3 linked regions of the Homo sapiens genome follow. The protein of the gene in region 3 interacts with the protein of the main gene of each other region in a pairwise test. Each region holds a gene or a part of one and is shown on either strand. Other genes may lie near its edges.

What was found.
Region 1: the proteins of SULT1B1 (region 3) and VBP1 interact in binary tests that used the Homo sapiens proteins (3 or more experiments, as listed by UniProt).
Region 2: the proteins of SULT1B1 (region 3) and TARS1 interact in binary tests that used the Homo sapiens proteins (3 or more experiments, as listed by UniProt).

Annotation. Positions count from the first base shown.
Region 1 is NC_000023.11:155,233,460-155,240,341, forward strand, and holds the end of VBP1 (prefoldin subunit 3), read left to right. Parts: intron 1-2,769; coding exon 2,770-2,908; intron 2,909-5,312; coding exon 5,313-5,383; 3' UTR 5,384-6,382; downstream 6,383-6,882. UniProt on the Homo sapiens protein: Binds specifically to cytosolic chaperonin (c-CPN) and transfers target proteins to it. Binds to nascent polypeptide chain and promotes folding in an environment in which there are many competing pathways for nonnative proteins.
Region 2 is NC_000005.10:33,450,965-33,457,964, reverse strand, and holds part of TARS1 (threonine--tRNA ligase 1, cytoplasmic), read right to left. Parts: intron 5,625-7,000; coding exon of another isoform or gene 5,526-5,624; intron 4,677-5,525; coding exon 4,553-4,676; intron 3,021-4,552; coding exon 2,899-3,020; intron 2,379-2,898; coding exon 2,261-2,378; intron 1,964-2,260; coding exon 1,899-1,963; intron 1,817-1,898; coding exon 1,738-1,816; intron 709-1,737; coding exon 562-708; intron 1-561. UniProt on the Homo sapiens protein: Catalyzes the attachment of threonine to tRNA(Thr) in a two-step reaction: threonine is first activated by ATP to form Thr-AMP and then transferred to the acceptor end of tRNA(Thr).
Region 3 is NC_000004.12:69,722,490-69,729,630, reverse strand, and holds part of SULT1B1 (sulfotransferase 1B1), read left to right. Parts: intron 1-2,430; coding exon 2,431-2,543; 3' UTR 2,544-7,141. UniProt on the Homo sapiens protein: Sulfotransferase that utilizes 3'-phospho-5'-adenylyl sulfate (PAPS) as sulfonate donor to catalyze the sulfate conjugation of dopamine, small phenols such as 1-naphthol and p-nitrophenol and thyroid hormones, including 3,3'-diiodothyronine, triidothyronine (T3) and reverse triiodothyronine (rT3).

The sequences.
Region 1 (6,882 bases), on a different chromosome or scaffold from region 3:
TTCTCTGCTCTTAAGGGCTCATATAACTAGATTAGGCCTACCTAGGCAGTCTGTATATTAAGGTCAGCTCTGACAAATGATGTAAATATCTCATCAGAGTCACAGATTCCAGAGATTAGAATGAGACAGCTGTTATGGGAGCCATAATTCTTGCCTACTATAGAAGTCAGTCACAAAAGAGCACATATACTGTGTCATTCTGTTTATGTAAAGTTGTAATACAGGCAAAACTATGCTGTAAGTCAGGTTAATGGTTACCTTTGCGGTGGGGGTGCTGGTGGTAACTGAAAATGTTCACAAGGAAGCTTTGGGGTGTTGGTGATAACCTGTCCTTGATCTGGATGCTGGTTCCATGAGTGTGTTAAGTTTGTGAAAATACATCAAGCTATATATTTATGATATGAATACTTTTCTATATGTATATAATATTAAATATAAACAAAAAAATCAGAAAACTGCATAAAGCAAAGTGTAAGTGAACGAATCTGTTGTCAGGGTTCAACCGGAGAAATAGAACCAGTAGGATATAGCTAACCTGCATAAACTTGTGTGCAAAGGTTCAGGTTAATATGTGTGTACCTCATGGTTTCATACTGTTACCTCCAATTCAAATTCAGGACAACAGAGTTTTCACTTTAGTTGTTCCTCTGTTTTTTTTTTTTTTTTTTTTTTTTTTTTTGAGACAGAGTCTTGTTCTGTCGCCCGGGCTGGAGCGCAGTGACGTGATCTTGGGTCACTGCAACTTCCGCCTCCTGGGTTCAAGTGATTCTCCTCCTTCAGCCTCCTGAGTAGCTGGGATTACAGGCACGTGCCACCACGCCCAGCTAATTTTTGTATTTTTAGTAGAGACGGGGTTTCGCCATGTTGGCTAGGCTGGCCTTGAACTCCTGACCTCAAGTGATCCACTCATCTCAGCCTGCCAAGTGCTGGGATTACAGGTGTGAGCCACCGCGCCTGGCCCCCCTGTTTCTTCTATATCAAGAATCCTGGTTTTCAGAAATACCAAGGGTGATAGAATTAAGCTAGACAACATTACTATTCACACGCAAAGCATTCTTAGAATAACACCACCCAACACTGTTACCACTGACATTTTTGCATATGTTCTTCCTGTCCTTACACATTCTTTATAAGGTTGTTCCCACATTGTTGGAGCACAGAGCCATTATATACTGTTTGCTCTCTCTCTTTCTCTCTCTCATCTTTCATTTATCCTAGTTCTTCGTGTAAATATTGAATGCACATCATAGTCTTTATGTTGATGTCCCCCCAGTCATCATCCAGTCATTTTGATTGTATGTTACTCATTCGTCTGATAAGTAGATTGCCTTAAGATTTATGGGAATGATATTCCCTGAGTTATCTCATGTTGCTGACAACTTGTCTGTGGCCTTTGTACTTGAAATTCAGTTTTGCTGGATATAATATCTTAAACTCACATTTTATTTCCTTGAGCATCTTATACAGTGCCCCATTTTCTTTTGTTGTAAAGCATCACTGTCAAAAAGTGTGAGGGCAAACTGATTTCTTTCTTCTATGAGTGATGTGTTCTTTTTGCCTGGATGCTCAAAGGACTTTTGGGTCAGTTTCCCCCAGGTATACAAAGTACCCTTTCATTTCATTTTGCGTGTCATTTCACCCAGTGTGTGTGTGTGTATGTGTGTGTGTGTGTGTGTGTGTGTGTGTAGTATGTGCATGTGTCACATTTCAGGAACATTTTGTTGAAATGAAGGATTTAGAAATTTTTTTGGTCCCCTGCTTTGGTTTTTTTTTCTTTGTGGATTCTTGTTATATTTATGTTCAGTCTTTGCTTATGTTGAATATTTTTGTCCTATCTGAATTTTAATACAGTTTTCTAATTATGGATTGGATTATTTGGTCAATAAGTATTTATTTGGCATTTACTTTGTGCCAAATACTTTCATGTTGTCTTGTTTAATCCTTACAACAATCCTTTGAGTAATTTTAAAATTGCATTTGTGAGATGAGGAAAGTGGTTTAGGAAATGCCAGTGGTAAGTCAGGTGATAGGGAGAGTTCAAAGCTGTAAAAGGTGTGGCTTCCCAATTCCAGGGTACATGCATCCCTGAATGTTGGCAGTAACACTAGATCTTCAGAATGACAGACACATTACCTTGTCTTAATCCCTAACATCTGTCAGAAGTAGTAGGAAGGGACAGGTAAAAGCTAGCTGTCTTTTTTACCTGGTCAAATATAGATGATAATAAATGTCTTTGAAAAATTTTAAATTAATATCATATCTCAAGCTCAGAATTTATTTAAATTGATACAAACAACACTATTTAGTTTCACGATGGAGGTAGTAGAAAGATAGGATTTTGTATCTAAACATACTGGTTTCTTATCCTGATTCTCCCATTTACCCACTAGCTATGCCAGCTAAGGAAACCTGAGCCTTCATTTCTTTAACTGTGAAGAAGACAACTTTGGCCTCAGCAGGGTTGAGGATTAAATGATACAATGTATGTAAATATATTCTTTAACCAAGGGGTCAGCAAACTTTCTGTAAAAGGTCAAATGGTAAATATTTTTGGTTTTGTAGATCACATGGTCTCTGTCTCAACCACTCAGTTTTGCCATTGTGGTATGAAAGCCTGAGTAGAGAATAGCTGGGCTCCAGTGAAACTTAACTTACAACAAAAGGCAGCAAGCTGGATTTGACCTGAGGGCTGTAGTTTGCCCACACTTTACTCTAACCTATAAAGCTCTGTGTAAATATTGAGTAATTGTCATGACTTTCTCTCTTCAGGCTAATGTAATGCTTGAATATGATATTGATGAAGCTCAGGCATTGTTGGAAAAGAATTTATCGACTGCCACAAAGAATCTTGATTCCCTGGAGGAAGACCTTGACTTTCTTCGAGATCAATTTACTACCACAGAAGTCAGTATCCTTTCTTAAAACAAAAAGCAAGGGAAAAAAGGAGAAAGATTTTTTTAAAAAAACATTCTTTCATGGGCAGAGGGAGAGCATTAGGAAAAATAGCTGATGCATGCTGGGCTTAATACCTAGGTGATGGGTTGATAGGTGCAGCAAACCACCATGGCACACGTTTACCTTTGTAACAAACCTGCACATCCTGCACATGTACCCTAGAACTAAAAAAAAATTAGAATACAAAAAACCTCCCACATTCTTTCTTACATTGCTTTAGTGGGAAGAATTTCCTTATTAGGCTAATATAAAGGTTATAGATTTTATAAGATAATAAATAAGATATTCGGAACTAGTACTTAAATAAGTTTGTAGATAGATTAGTGATTTTGAAATGTGATGTGGAAACAGCAAATTCACATAGGTGAGTAAGTATTTTTCTTCCAAATATTTTCCCAAGACAACTTTATAACTGGTTAAATAGTTTAATTTCACAAGCATTTAAGGGTCTCCTATGTTCCTGCAACTGTGCTAAGACATATGGGGCATGAAAATCAATTTTAGAAAAGAGTGGCAGTGCCTTTCTCTGGTAGAACTGTACATGTAAAACAGCTGAATGATAATTCATAGCAAACTATAAGTAAGTTAACATATGCAACACCAAGGCAATTTAAACTTTGGGAAAGATAGATGTAGGCTGGACTTAGTTCAAAGAAGGCTTTGTTGAGAAGATAAAAGTTAGGCTGCTTTTTTAAAGGCGGCGTAGGGTTTAAAGATCAGCAGAGAGAAGAGGTGGGAGTGGGGTATTCTGGTCAAGGGGGAAGGCAAGCTCTTTGCCTTTCTTCTCTGGCCTGTCTTTTCCTCCTACTTCCTGTCACAGTCACTCAAGACAAAATCACGGGAGTCACCTTTCACACTTCTCTCTTCCTCACTACCAATAATAAATCAGTCGCCAGATTCACATCAAATTTCCCTCATAAATCTCTCTGCCCATTACTGTTCTCGTTCTGGGGCTCCAAAACCTGCACTCAGAACCTTTTTAGGTTCCTCTCATTCCATCTGTCCTTCCCACTATCTCTAGTATGAATTTACTAGGTCACTCATTTTTATTCCTCTGGTTACAATATTTCAACGGTTCCTTGTTACTTACAAGATATACATATAGGCACTCTTGTGAAGTGCCCCCAGCTTGTCTCACCTCATGCCACTGACCTCTTCTTGCCTTTCCCCAGTGCATTCCAGGTTCCAGATAACCCCAGTCAGTTATTGTACACACTCCCCAATTGTGCCACACCCTTTGCATTTCTACACTTTGTTCCTCCTAACTGGAATGACTTTCCCATATTTACAGGATGTGCTCTTTTTTTACCCTTTTACCCTAAATATCTCAGTCCAAGCATCAGAGCTTTCCTGAACATTTTCTGATCCTCAGAGTGTTTCTTGTGTGCTTGCTTAACACATACTGCTTAGTTTTACCTTGCCAAACCGTGAGCTCTTCAGATGTAGGAGCTGCACTTTCTCTTCTTTTCCAGTGTGCAGCATGTGGCAGTTGTTTATGGTTGGCTGAGGGAAGGCAGGCCTGTTGGGGCCTAGTGCAGTGGTCATCATCATCTGACGGGTAGTGTGGAAACTTCATCCAGCTATGAGATGACGAGGGCCTAGGACGGGTGGCTTGTGGAAAGGAAAAGATATTAAACGTGTGAGAAAAAAACAGGATCCAGTGACTTAGATGGGTACAGGAGCCAAAAGTGAGGAAATCCTCTAAGATGAGTCCTACAAGCTTAGTTAAATGCCATTTGTTATTGCTAGTACTGCAAAAGGTAGGAAAGGAAGGTGTGCAGACAAGTGAGGGAGCTAGGGTGGACAGTCTCTGTTACATTGACATTCTACTGGAGTCTAAGCTCCACGAGGAAAAGAACTTCACCTGTCTTATTCAGGTCAGGGCTTTGTACAGTGCCTAGTCAAAAATACAGTAGATGCTTAATAAACTTGTTAAGCCAAAGGGAGGGTAAGAGATAAAATTATTGATAATTGTAATAATATAAATATTACATGGCAGGATATGGGTTGAGTGATCTTTCAGATTTCTTGGATGAGGGACTGTCTTTAAAACTATCGAGAGTGTCTAGTACATATTTGTTAAATATATCATAGTTGACTAGCTGACAGTTGACTAATACCATAGTAAACAATGGGTTAACAATTAATTTGAGTCCTTAGTTTTGATAGAGTTTAATTATAGTATTTTCCTAACAATTGACATTATAGCAGGATGTCTTACAATACTATTTGTTACCAGTATTTGTATATGTTTCATTTCTGTGTCTTTGATTCATTGTGTGAGTGGAGTGAATACTTAGTCATTGCATGCATTATCTTTAGAATTGCATTTGCATTTTCTTTGACAATTCTTGCAGATATGGCCAGGGTTTATAATTGGGATGTAAAAAGAAGAAACAAGGATGACTCTACCAAGAACAAAGCATAATGCTGGCAATTAAAAATGTGGTTTAGTTTTCCAAACATGTTATCTTAAATACCCCTTTATCCTTACAGGTTGACATAACTTTGAATGTTTTAACAGCAAGAATTTTAAGAAAAGATAAACACCATTTTATTTATTTATAAAAACAAAATTAGTTTCAAATATTTTTGACATTGTGATTTTTTTTTCCACATTTCTCAGCAAAGCTAATGGTATTTTAATCATTATTTTTGCCTGTCATAAGAAAACTCTTAGCTGAAATGGCCGAAAACTGTGAGACATGCTATGGAAGCTGAATGCCGGACGCTAGCACAGTTTACTTTTTCCCTTTCTAATTGGCTGATGTTACTCTCACTTGATGTGGTTAAACCATTTTAGAGGTAGAGAAGACAGACAGTTTGAATATTTGTAAACTTGTTTTTCTTTGGTATATTTAGGACTTAGTGGTCCTCTGTTGCTATTGTCTTCTATAAGTGGAGTTTCATGACTTACTGCTTAACGAATAACTAACTACTATGATATTCTGGACATTTTAGGAAATGGTAATTTGCCTTGCTACACATTAAGAGGGCTATTAAGACTACATTTTTTCTAACCTCAGATAAGTGCAGTGTCTTTGCAATGCCAACATAAGGGAGATCTTGGCCAACGTGAAATAAAATTACTCATTCAAAACTCTGCCTAAGGTGATTTTGTAGTTCTTAACAGTTCTCCAGAGCATCTTGAACAGGAATATTAAGATAAATGTGAATCTGCAATGGCTGAAAAGAGTTGTGAGCTTTTTTATTCATGATAAAACCTTATAGGAATAGTATAAAAAATCCCTGTGGAAAGCTACTAGTACATTGACCAGCGCTGGGTGATACAGATTCTGATAAAAACATAAATGTATTAGTTCATCTCCATGTAGTAAAAAGTATACTTATACAATGTTTTGTACTTGTATTTCATGAAATTAAAACAGTGATGCTAAAACTATGGCAGAGCACTTTTTTCATGTTACTCTTTGTCTTACTATGTTTGGGCTGCTATAACAGAATACCACAGAGTGGGGGGCTTATAAACAGCAGAAATTTATCTCTCCCAGTTCTGGAGGCTGGGAAGTCCAAGATCAAGGTGCTGGCAGATTTGGTGTCTGGTAAGGGCTGTGTCCTGGTTCGTAAACGGCACCTTTTCACTGTGCCCTCATGTGGCAGAAGGGGCAAGGAGCTCCCTTGGGCCTCTTTAATTTGGCACTAATCTCATCATGAGGGCTCTGCCCTTATGACCTACTCACCTCCCAAAAGCCCCACCTCCTAATACCATCACCTTGGGGGTTAAGATTTTAACATAACAATTTTGGGGTGACACAAAGATTCAGACAATAACACCTTTTTAAAGTTAACATGGGTCTTTTCACGTATTTGTAAAGTTTACTTGTACATATACTAGCATGTTCCAAGAACAACTTATATTTCTAGAAACACCATAAAATCCCTGTGGAAGGAATACAGATCTGCAAA
Region 2 (7,000 bases), on a different chromosome or scaffold from region 3:
GGCTGCTACCTCCAGCTCAAGCTTCATAACCTAATAGCCAAGGACCCCTGGCACAGAGTGCCTATTTTAAGGGGGAATGTTTTATCTAGCCTAACTTCCAGTTTAGAGGACATTCAGCAGTAACAGAGATAATGGGTAGAGGAAATGATAGCACAGGATCCATGTGCGACATGCTGCTAAACCTTGGGCAACAAGTAGGTTAATCTTTGTGGGACTCTGTTTCCACATTTTAAATGAGTCAGTGAAACTAGAGGGTTTCCATAGTTCTCCCAGCTCTATGAGAAGCTGTTATACTTCTTTTACAGAAAACCGTAGATCATCAGTGTTTGCTCTCAATAAAAGTAGTTCAAATGCATTTTTGTGCGGTACTGAGCATACTCCAGGCAGATAATGTGGACAATCAGTAAGTGTTTATAGTTTGTACAGGACATAGCACCAGTTACTAAAAAGCCACAACATCTCTTCAAAACAAAATTCCTAGTACTTCATGCAGCTGAATTTCAAACTTCAAATGAAGTTGAAGAAAACTCAGTCAAGACACATCATTGTTCTTGAACATACCCTGCCAATTTTCCTATGATCTCGGTTTTTAGCTTCCTCTTGGAACTTCTCCCACTCTTTCAACATTTTAGGATCTGGGAATGAAATGCCATAAATTCTCTGGAGAGTCTCCATATCTGCTTTGCCTTCCCAGTACGTGGAGGAATTCTGAAAACAAGGATTAACCATGAAACAACATTCAAATTTGTAAACATCTCACTTATTTTAACTCCCAATTGCTTTGAGGCCTTGTTAGAGTAGTTACTCATTCTGCAGCACAAAGTTGGCTGTTTTCTATCCTCAAAAATGCCCCTCCCTCAATCTGCAGGTGGGTGCAGTGGCTCATGCCTGTAATCCCAGCACTCTGTGAAGCCGAGGCAAGAGGATTGCTTGAGCCTGGGAGTTCGAGACCAGCCTGGGAAACACAGGGAGACCCCATTCTTTATTTAAAAAAAAGAAAATTACCCAGGCATGGTGGTGTGCGCTTATGGTCGCAGCTACTCAGGAGGCTAAGGCAGGAGGACTGCTTGAGCCTGGAGTGCAGTGGCACGATCTCCATTCACTGCAACCTCATTTCCCAGGCTCAAGTGGTCCTCCACTCTGTCTTTTTGGGGCAACAGAGTGAGACCCATTCTACACCCCAATACCCCCAAAACTGCCCACCCCTCAATACTCAACCACAATTCCACAAACATTACTTTGCCTGCAAAGGCATTTCTCACAAAATGAGCAAAAATAGAAATGAGCCAATAAAAAAAAAATCTTGAAATGACTCAATTATTCTCTTGATTTAAAGTGCATTTTAAAAACCTCCATAAAATGTTTATGAACTAGTATAAAACTGGGTTCTGTTAAAAACAACAACTTGGGAAATTATTAATTTAGACATATAAAGGGCAAAAGCACATACTCCCAGTGAGTCTCAAAGCTTTTATAGAGCCAGGATGGCCCATGCTGTATGATTTTGTAAAATCTCCATCCCCTGTGATTGCTCTGGCAATGACAGCAAGTCAGTCACCCCTTGAGGGATTTCAATTATAAAATCCTGATGGCATACAGCTCCCAGTTAATAGAGAGCATGAGAAAATACCATCCTTTCATGTGCAACAGAAAATGGTAAAGAGAAATCAGTGAAAGTTTAAACATATATCTATTCTAGACAGATACATTCACAGTCTTTAAAGTTACATTACTTACTTTGTGTATTTTTAAAGCCTTAATTTTGCCCGTGTGTCTAACATGAGGACCCCGGCAGAGATCTATCAAAGGGCCACATCTAAAGATAAAATGAAAGGAATTTTAACAAAGACAAAATGACATACATACCAGATACATTTAATGACATCTAATATTCTTACCTATAGACTGTGGTAGTTGGAGTATTCACCTTTTCATTCAATATCCGGCATTTGAACTTGTTGTACTGAAAACAGGAAAAATTATTATTTTAAAAAACTGTCCTTTAATTTTTACTTCTAAGTACTATAGCTAAAACGTAGCACTGTATGAATATAAATGTTGATACTTCATGTTTTAAAAACATGTTGAAGGAATGGTTTGCTAGGAAAAAAATGAAATTAAAAAAATAATAAAAACACTTAATTTTTGCTAAAGAACCAATTAGACTTCAGCTTAGTACACGGAACGCCAGTGGTGTCACTTCAACTAACATGAATAAATGATATTAACAGTGGGGGCCACGCACTATGGTTCAATTTACCTTAAACATTGCCAGTAAAGTTTCTTTCTTAACTTCCAGTCTTTCAAAAGCTTGTTTTTCTTTAATGATTTTCTTACACAAAGCCTCCAGAGAAGAGAAATCATTGCTAGACACACCCCTGAAGGAGAAGAAAGTATAATCTTTTCATTCCATTCGAATCACACCATGGCTTCGAAAAATGTTCATTTGGAAATAGTATTTGGAATACTTCAAGGGTTTTAATATTAAAAAATTAGACTATTGCATCGTATCTTAGAATTCTAAACAAAACATTTTTCATAAGTAATTTTTACATTTTATATTTTCAGTAGCTTCTACCTTGGTCATCCATGGAGACCTTTCTCACTAGTGACCCCTTCCCGCAACTCTATCACCAGGTTTTAAAGGAGAGGGGAGGACCAGTCTCCCTGAATTTCCCAAAATACCTTAGGACTCTACCTCCATCAATCTAGAACAGAGGTCTCATCAAATCCTCTATTACTTCAGGTAAATTGCAACACTTCAAGTACTGATAATGGGCATACCTGATGAAGAAGCAGTGAGATCTATATCATTCCTCCCTTACTGAGAACTCTTAAGAATAACTTATGGATCCATAGTCATTGACTTCAGTTTTCTTTATCTAGTTGATGGCTTACCCTTCTTCGAGGTACATGTCATAATAGAATCCATTTTCTATTGGCGGACCGTAGCATAAACATCCACCATAGACTCTTTCCATGGCTTCACCCATTATGTGAGCACTAGAGTGCCAATACACCTGAAAATTTAAAGAAAAATGGCATGGTCTGAGTCTTGGCATACAAGTTGCCAATTAATGTGGTTGTCTGAAAGAGACAGATGATAATATTTACTACAAGTAAACCCAATATATAAAATCCTAAATTTCTAAATCTATAAACTACTGTTTCTATCCATAGCCAAAGTAATTCAAAAGGCTTCCAATTACTAGTGTATTTTTATTTTGGAAATCATCTGGTTTAGCTGTTTTCAAACAAATTAAACTAAACTTGGCATCACTAATTAAATGACATAGACTTTGTTCTCTGAAAACAACTGCTACTCACAATGTGACTAACTCATTGATTGCAATGGCCCAGGTTCTTTTGAGTCAATGTGCCCACAGCACCATGTCTCAGACACTGTGATCTGGCCTTTAGCTGGCTATGGAACATCACTTAGAAATTACATGTTGTTACTGGCCCAAAACAAAGGTGGTACAACCCGACCCCACAACACAATGACAAAACACGAGGACAAACATCTGTACACTGAAATCAAATGGCAGTACTTGGTTTTAAAGTAATCACTGGGATGAGTCAGAATACACCCAAAGCAATGTTTTCAAGATTTAGTATTAAGGTACCAAAGTGACATTAAAAAATTCTCGTAAGAAACTTGAGGGCTCCAAAATACATTTGAAAACCACTAATCCACATACATAAGTGAACAATCATCACTAAAACAAAATACTTTGTCTCCCCTTATATGATACACAGCCATGGAGAATTAAAAAGAAAATCTTGTCATCACATGCAGGTTGACTTTTATAGTGTTATCCAGCAGATTTGCATCTTAAGATGAGAAAAAAATACAGAAATTATCCAATAAAGGCAGTGCTTTGAAGTAAGGTTCAAATTTATTTGTCAAATGTACATATCTTGCTAGAGTGTTCATAGCTTAGAGGCCAGGCACAGTGGCTCACACCTATAATCCCAGCACTTTGGGGGGCCGAGGTGGGCAGATCACTTGAGGTCAGGAGTTCAAGACCAGCCTGGCCAACATGGTGAAACCCCATCTCTACTAAAAATACAAAAATTAGCCAAGTGTGGTAGTGCGCTCCTATAATCCCAGCTACTTGGGAGGCTGAGGCAGGAGAATAGCTTGAACCTGGGAGGTGGAGGTTGTACTGAGGCAAGAGCGCACCACTGCACTACAGTCTGAGTGACAAAGCAAGACTCCATCATTAAAAAAAAAAAAAATTAAAATAAAATAGTGTTCACAGTTTAGAAAACAATTTTTACTTGCTTAATCAATGTTTAATACAATTCCCAAAACATTTTCCCTATTGAAGTGTCTAGTAATGAAAAGACTTATTCAGCTTCACCCCTTTATTTTCTAAGGCAAGCACTTTTATTATGTTCCCTAAATGAAGGACAAAATGAAGATTTCAAATATGACAGTGAGACAACAATAAATGTTAGCCACCCAATCGCAGCAGGACTGAGCTGGAAAAGACTTCAAATGTGAATCTGCATCCTAAAATTCAATGAATACTAATCAGCAACTTACTGCCTGAGCTTCCTCATCCTCAAACTTGAGAAGCTCCAAGGTACAATCTTCTTCCAGAGGGCGGTCCAGGTCCCACACAACATTATTTACTTTAGCAATAACGGTGTTGTCGGCCAGGCCTTGACTTAAAAAAAAAAAAAAAAAAAAAAGTCCACACATATATAAGTACACACGAATCTAATTTGAAAACAGGAAAATAAACACTATTTTTATTATATATTGTTTTTTTATATTGATGTATCTCTATTTTTCTGAAATATAATGATAAAAACAACAAATTCCAAAAATGTACCTAAGAACCTAACTGGAAGATCCTGAAAATGCAGAACATTATCATTTGACATTGAATGCCTCCTGTTTAAGCAGATATGGCAACTCTGATAAATAAGCACTATCAATTTCCAATGGTTTGAATAATCTTAATTTCTCCAACAAATAAGTTTTTTTTTTTTTAATTTTTTAGCGACAGGGTCTTGCTATGTTGCGCAGGCTGGCCTCCTGGCCTGAAGCAATCCTCCAACATCAGCCTCTAGAGTAGCTGGGACAACTGGCACAAGTCACCACACCGAGTTTTCTCTTAATACACCCACCTTTCTCTTTCTACAAAGCTAAGCTATGTAGACTCCAAAGGAAAAAAAAAAGGCCTACTAAATAACTTCTCTGTTCCTCTTCCTGCTTAAAATGTACACCAGATCCTTTCTTTGACAGACAATGCTAACCTCAGAATAAATTCTGCAAATGCCTATGATAATATTTATAACAAATATAGAGGTAAAATGAAAGACTATTTAATAAAACTTTCCATATAATGTGAGTAAAAACATTACACACCCAATATACAACATCGAACATAAAGTATCATCAAGTGATGAAATATCAGAGCACACAGAGTGTAAAAGCTACAGGAGTTCTGAGGAGGGAAAGCAGTACAGGTCAGAGTCATCTGGAAAGGCTTTGAGGATAAAGCACTCACAGGAAGAAAAGAGGAGGCCATGGCATTCCAGATGAGGGAATGGCCACAGATGCAAGCAGAGATGCAAGTGAAGAGAGGTTTTTGCAGGAAGCTGTGTGACTAGAGCAGAGTTGAGTAGGTGAGCCAGATTATACATCTAAATGCACAGCTAGAGAAATAATAGTCTATAACAGCCTGGACATCTCAACGAAGGTAGGCAACATTCTACACTGTGAAGAAAAAGTATACACCCTTTACACTGTAAATCTCAAAGAAACCTACCACTAGAAGGCTTTAAGCTAGCCAGGCTTGCTGTGTTGGTGGCTCTCTATGTCTAAGGGTTTACAACAAAATGTATACAACTCCTATCTGAGGATCAAGAGAAAAGAACCAAACAGAAAGTAAACAACAAACTCCTTTCTATTTTCAATGCTCCTACTAACTTTACCATAGGTTATAAACAATGTTTTCTTTCCTCCTGAGATCAGATGGAGTCAATAAAATAAATACATGCATTTCACAAAACATAACATGAATTTGGCAGAGAGAAATGTATTTCATCATATTGGTGTAAAACAGTTTTCAGGAGATTAAAGAACTGATAAAAAGGATAATCATATTCTCTATATTCTTTGGGAAGAACATGACTTTTATCTTATGATCCAATATGGAGCCCCAAGATTCTAAGAATAGAGTTACTCTGAAAATGTAGATTACACATGGGCCATACTGGATCATTTCAATTTTTCAAAGAAGGGTAAAATAATCTTTAAGATTTGTAACAAAACGGCCAGGCGCAGTGGCTCACGCCTGTAATCCCAGCACTTTGGGAGGCCGAGGCGGGTGGATCACGAGGTCAGGAGATCAAGACCATCCTGGCTAACACAGTGAAACCCCGTCTCTACTAAAAATACAAAAATTAGGCAGGCGTGGTGGCGGGCGCCTGTAATCCCAGCTACTCAGGAGGCCGAGGCAGGAGAATGGCGTCAACCCAGGAAGCGGAGCTTGCAGTGAGCCAAGATGGCGCCAATGCACTCCAGCCTGGGCGACAGAGCGAGACTCCTCCGTCTCAAAAAAAAAAAAAAAAGATTTATAACAAAACTTCAAAGAAAAACCTTTTGACGCAAATGGAACATGTCTTTTTTGTCCTTCCCTTTCATATTCACCACTAATTATGTGAATCTTTAAATAGCCTGTTATCAATGTTATAATTTTTCACAGAACAAAAAGTTATTCTGGACTTTTGTAAAAATTTCATAAAGTATTCTCAGTGCAGATCAGTGACTTAACTCCAGAGCTAAAGCCCATCAATGTTTTATGTAATTCAACCTTTTATTTTTTTCCCTGGAGACGGACTCTCGCTCTGTCACCAAGGCTGGAGTGCAGTGGCTCAATCTTGGCTCACTGCAACCTCCACCTCCCGAGTTCAAGCTATCCTCCCACCTCAGCCTCCAAGTAGTTGGGACTACAGGTGTGCGCCACCATGACTGGCTAAT
Region 3 (7,141 bases):
CTTATTAAGGTAGCAAATAGTCCTAGTGTTTTCAAATTGTGCTCTTTCTTTTCTAAAAACAATATATTTAACCTATTAAAAATAACTTCTAGAGTAAGAAAGCAGGTATATTTTTCATCAAAAATTGTATGCATTATAAGTTTGAGCAAAGAAGACTGATGTGTATATATCTTATCTGTATGCTTATACACAGATGTAAATGTATGTGTATGGACAGTCATCCCTTGCTATATGTGGGGGATTGGTTCCAGGAACTCTGCCTCTGAATATACTAGAACCTGCCTATATGAAAATTGGCACTCAAAACATGTGGGTGGGTTTCTCATCATGCAAATACTGTATTTTTTATTGCTTTTAGTTGGAAAAAAACTGCATATAAGTGAACCTGGCCAGCGCAAGTCTGTATTGTTCAAGGGTCAGTTGTGTACATGTACATATATATTCTTTTTCCTGGTAGAAGAATCAGAAAATAAATCTTTATTAAACAAGGCAAATTCTCATTGTGATAGATACGTGAATATAATTTCCCAGAAATTTTATCTCAAATCATATGAAAATTGATGCCATTTCATGACATCTAATTATGATGTAGACATAAAGAAGACAAGCTCAATATCTGGATTCTATGGCTTCTCCAACCTCAATAGAAAAAAAGCACTTGCTGTTCTAATATTGAAGGTAGTCTTTATATCCCCTCTCTAGGGGGTTAAGAACATACTTTTGTGGTCAGATTGATCTGAGGTTTATCCAGGCTACACCATTCCCTGAATACATTAATTAACCTGCCAAAGCTCTGATTACATCACTGGCAAAATAGATAATATAATAACACCTGTGGCAAAAGTTTCTGGGGAGGATTATGGTAAATTATATGTAAGCATTTAGGATATTTTCTCACAATAAATAATGCATACAGAAGTAAAAAGCATTATTAGTCTAAATAGTTTGACCTTCCTTCCTTCCTTCCATTCTTCCGTTCTTCCTTCCTTCCTTCCCTGATGTATCCAGTAAACATTTAGAGTACTCATTCGTTAATTTGCATATAGAAAAACTTCTTCATGAATAACTATATACAGCACATATTCTTTAAAAGATTCAAAGGTAAATGATACATATCTTTGACTCAAGAAGCTCACAATGTAGTGCAAGGGGCATGTACATGAATGAATGCTGAAAGAAGTTAAGTATGAACAAATGTGCCAGGCACACTGAATCTTGAAAGATGCCATATTAGATAAATCAATGTTATTATTATGAGGGTGGGATAGATTATGTCCAATGTTTGGTCGTATGTCCTAAATTATAACAAATAGAAAAACCTGGCCTTTGGCCAGCATTTATCAAAAGTTCTTTTTTGAAGTAAATGTGTTTGCGTATATTATAAAATTTATATGCAGATCAGATCACTGGAATGATTTATATATAACTTTTAATTGCTTAAATCTGTGTTCTCCTCTGTTTTTAATGACATCCTTACGGATGCATTAGCCCCAGTATGTTTATGTTGAACCCTTATTCAACCCTATGTTGAATTCCAGAGCTATTGACATCTGGTGAACATAGAACAAAATGTAACAACTAGGGAAAAAAGCATATCTATAGGAATGTTTTTCTTTTAAAAGACTTGGAAGTTTTATCAAACCACTGTGGATTAATATAGCTTGTAATTTAATATGATGTATTACTATTTCATAAAATAGTGAGATGTTTTTCTCTAAAAATATTGGCAGTACATTAAAAGTTTATTCATTTTCCAAACACATATTTATAAATACCCAAGTATGAGAGACTAAATTTAAATTTTTATCCTCAAAGATTTACTTTAAAAAACATGGTTCCAGGATGTTATATATTTGATATTAATGTTATTATTCCCACCTAAATTACAAATAAAGAACAAGCCTAGTGAATTTAGGAAAAACAACTGTCATCTCCATATCATAGCATCCTTGTTTATAAATTCTAGGAAATGATACTTATCAACTTTTTATTTCACAGTTTTGCTGTGCTGATGACTAATTTTTTGTCTAGTTTCCAAAAATTACTTTGTGAAATAAAATATGCCTGACTATTGATCCAAGTGCTCAGTGATAATCTCATGACCTACGACCATTAGAAACAGTAAAATTATCACTCTTGGGAAACTATTGTAAAGCCCAGGAATTTAAACAAGAAAATTAGTCTTTCTCAGAATGCCTCTTCAAATGTCAGACTCTATTTAATTATAAACCACCTTTCCAGATGTAAAAAATTATTCAAATTTTAAAAGCCTGAAAAATTTAAAGGTTAATACAATTTAAAGACTGTTTGAATTCATTCAAATAAAAGGAAGGTCTTTCTTTAGGCCTTCTAATCTTTTCCTTTGGTATATACTGATTTCTTCTTATGGAAATATTTTATTCTTTCCTATGTTTTTTTATTTACCTTTAGGGACGGCTGGTGACTGGAAGAATTACTTCACCGTGGCCCAAAATGAGAAATTTGATGCTATTTATGAGACAGAAATGTCCAAAACTGCACTTCAATTCCGCACAGAGATTTAAAGTGTCTAAATCACACATCTGAAGAAATAAGAGATTGTCTGTAGTTGATTGAAACGAGGGCAGTTATGAATTGATTTGGGCAATCAAATGAATTTATAAAGGAGAATAATATGCTTTTAATATGTTGATTCTTTTCAATGTTATTAATCAGATCCCAGTTTTGTTCCTTTGATTCTGAGTTTCCAAATTCTCTAAGGCTAAAGTTCATTGTTAACTTTTTGTAACAAAGGAACAATGTAACCACAGGCTCTTCCTGCCTTTTTCTACACTAGTACTGATAAGAAAGAAGGGATTTATTTTACTTAATCTCCCATATATTATGATTTAGAATTAAGTTCCCCTCCCTAGTACCATGGTCCAAGAAATGCTGTTTTCATAATGAGACTATATTTCCTAACTCTGCCCCAATTTCCCTTTGCCGAAAATTTGACCCAGGACACTGTGTTCCACTGCTGTCTACCGAGTTTCAAGTTGTTCTCTGAGTCATAGCTCATCTTCCTGCAGTGCCTCTATTTGGATAACAAAGTTCATGTCCCCGATCATGTAGTTCAGATTTTGGAAATCTTTTTTCTATATCATACCTAATGTCTAAGTCTCCGAAAGGCAAACGCCTACAATAGTCTCTGTAGGATTGGTTACCTGGGAACTGGAGCTCTGTTCTGAAAAGCAGCCCTGAGGGCTGTGACCTACTTCTTATGGGGAGTCCTCTTTTTCCCAACAGACCCGTTTGAACTTCAGAGAAATCACCTACTGCTGTGTTCTGGTCACCATTTGGGAACTTCAGTTACTTAATCTTATATTTGGATAGATTTGGATACCTTAATAGCACCTTTAATATCCTAGACATGATCATAACCTCTGCAAAATATTTCCCAATCTGGTGCCCAAGGAAGACTCTCTAGGCTGAATCTCCACTCTGCCCTCTTGACCCAATGTTCCTTCTACTTATTATTACATGCTTATATCTATTTGTGTGGTCTCTGATCTATGTTTTCTTGGAACATTTATATATATATATATATATATATATATATATATATATATATATATATATGTACATTTTATTATTATACTTTAAGTTCCAGGTTACATGTGCACAATGTGCAGGTTTGTTATATATGCATACATGTGCCATGTTGGTGTGCTGCATCCATTAACTCGTCATTTACATTAGGTATACCTCCTAATGCTATCCTTCCCCCCTCCCTCCACCCCACAACAGGCCCCAGTGTGTGATGTTACCTTTCCTGTGTCCAAGTGTTCTCATCGTTCAATTCCCACCAATGACTAAGAACATGAGGTGTTTGGTTTTTTTGTTCTTGCAATAGTTTGCTGAAAAGTATGGTTTCCAGCTTTATCCATGTCCCTACAAAGGACATGAACTCATCATTTTTTATGGCTGCACAGTATTCTATGGTGTATATGTGCCACATTTTCTTAATCCAGTCTATCATTGATGGACATTTGGGTTGGTTCCAAGTCTTTGCTATTGTGAATAGTGCCGCAATAAATATACGTGTGCATGTGTCTTTATAGCAGCATGATTTATAATCCTTTGGGTATATACCCAGTAATGGGATGGCTGGGTCAAATGGTATTTCTAGTTCTAGATCTCTGAGGAATTGCCACACTGTCTTCCACAATGGTTGAACTAGTTTACACTCCCACCAAAAGTGTAAAAGTGTTCCTATTTCTCCACATCCTTTCCAGCACCTGTTGTTTCCTGACTTTTTAATGATTGCCATTCTAACTGGTGTGAGATGGTATCTCATTGTGGTTTTGATTTGCATTTCCCTGATGGCCAGTGATGATGAGCATTTTTTCATGTGTCTGTTGGCTGCATAAATGTCTTCTTTTGAGAAGTATCTGTTCATATTCTTTGCACACTTGTTGATGGGGTTGTTTTTTTTTTCTTGTAAATTTGTTTGAGTTCTTTGTAGATTCTGGATATTAGCCCTTTGTCAGATGAGTAGATTGCAAAAATTTTCTCCCATTCTGTAGGTTGCCTGTTCACGCTGATGGTAGTTTCTTTTGCTGTGCAGAAGCTCTTTAGTTTAATTAGATCCCATTTGTCAATTTTGGCTTTTGTTGCCATTGCTTTTGGTGTTTTAGACATGAAGTCCTTGCCCATGCCTATGTCCTGAATGATATTGCCTAGGTTTTCTTCTAGGGTTTTTATGGTTTTAGGTCTTACATTTAAGTCTTTAATCCATCTTGAATTAATTTTTGTATAAGGTGTAAGGAAGGGATCCAGGTTCTGCTTTCTACATATGGCTAGCCAGTTTTCCCAGCACCATTTATTAAATAGGGAATCCTTTCCCCATTGCTTGTTTTCGTCAGGTTTGTCAAAGATCAGATAATTGTAGATGTGTAGTATTATTTCTGAGGGCTCTGTTCTGTTCCATTGGTCTATATCTCTGTTTTGGTCCAGTACCATGCTGTTTTGGTTACTGTAGCCTTGTAGTATAGTTTGAAGTCAGGTAGTATGATGCTTCCAGCTTTGCTCTTTTGGCTTAGGATTGACTTGGCAATGCGGGCTCTTTTTTGGTTTCTTATGAACTTTAAAGTAGTTTTTTCCAATTCTGTGAAGAAAGTCATTGGTAGCTTAATGGGGATGGCATTGAATCTATAAATGACCTTGGGCAGTATGGCCATTTTCATGATATTGATTCTTCCTATCCATGAGCATGGAATGTTCTTCTATTTGTTTGTATCCTCTTTTATTTCATTGAGCAGTGGTTTGTAGTTCTCCTTGAAGTGATCCTTCACATCCCTTGTAAGTTGGATTCCTAGGTATTTTATTCTCTTTGAAGCAATTGTGAATGGGAGTTCACTCCTGATTTGGCTCTCTGTCTGTTATTGGTGTATAAGAATGCTTGTGATTTTTGTACATTGATTTTGTATCCTGAGACTTTGCTGAAGTTGCTTATCAGCTTAAGGAGATTTTGGGCTGAGACAATGGGGTTTTCTACATATACAATCATGTCATCTGCAAACAGGGACAATTTGACTTCCTCTTCTCCTAATTGAATACCCTTTATTTCTTTCTCCTGCCTGATTGCCCTGGCCAGAACTTCCAACACTATGTTGAATAGGAGTGGTGAGAGACGGCATCCCTGTCTTGTGCCAGTTTTCAAAGGGAATGCTTCCAGGTTTTGCCCATGCAGTATGATATTGGCTGGTGGTTTGTCATAGAGGGCTCTCCTTATTTTGAGATACATTCCATCAATACCTAATTTATTGAGAGTTTTTAGCATGAAGGCTGTTGAATTTTGTCAAAGGCCTTTTCTGCATCTATTGAGATAATCATGTGGTTTTTGTCTTTGGTTCTGTTTATATGCTGGATTACATTTATTGATTTGCATATGTTGAACCAGCCTTGAATCCCAGGGATGAAGCCCACTTGATCATGGTGGATAAGCTTTTTGATGTGCTGCTGGATTCGGTTTGCCAGTATTTTATTGAGGATTTTTGCATCAATGTTCATCAGGGTTATTGGTCTAAAATTCTCTTTTTTTGTTGTGTCTCTGCCAGGCTTTGGTATCAGGATGATGCTGGCCTCATAAAATGAGTTAGGGAGGATTCCCTCCTTTTCTGTTCATTGGAATAGTTTCAGAAGGAATGGTACCAGCTCCTCCTTGGACCTCTGGTAGAATTCAGCTGTGAATCTATCTGGTCCTGGACTTCTTTTGGTTGGTAAGCTATTAATTATTGCCTCTATTTCAGAGCATGTTATTTTTCTATTCAGAGATTCAACTTCTTCCTGGTTTATTCTTGGGAGGGTGTATGTGTCGAGGAATTTATCCATTTCTTCTAGATTTTCTAGTTTATTTGCGTAGAGGTGTTTTTAGTATTCTCTGACGGTAGTTTGTATTTCTGTGGGATCATCGGTGGTGATATCCCCTTTATCTTTTTTTATTGCATCTATTTGATTCTTCTCTCTTTTCTTCTTTATTAGTCTTGCTGGTGGTCTATCAATTTTGTTGATCTTTTCGAAAAACCAGCTCCTGAATTCACTGATTTTTTGAAGGGGTTTTTGTGTCTTTGTCTCCTTCAGTTATGCTCTGATCTTAACTCCAGCTTGGCATTAGAAGTAGTTGTTTATATCCCCATGTGCAGCAAAGTCTTTTTCCTGAGATCATATCACATGTGCCAAGTTATATGCCAAGCCATGGTTCTCAAGCTGAAGGTACAGTACCCTGGGCCCTTACTTGTTCTGAAAGGGGTGGGGGTGGTGGTTTTGGACATACTGTTAGACTTTCTGAGCCACAACTGAGGTAGCTATGGCTTATCGTATTTTGACTTCACAGGTGAATCTCCGCTGTCAGCCAGGAATAGCCAGGAATAGCTAAAATAGCTCCTTAAGCTGTAACATTTCTCTTTTCCAACCCCAGCAAAGGATTGGTCTAGTGGTAACAACAAACCTCATAGAAGTAGTACACCTATTATTCTGGAGATACTTGCTTCTATAGATTTATTACAATATGTTTTATAAAGTATTTTAGAGTATATAATTTGTGTTTATGTTCCACAGAAACATATTTTATAGGAGTTAATCTTGACTATCTAAAGGTATTGTGAACTAGTTCCAGCTTTCT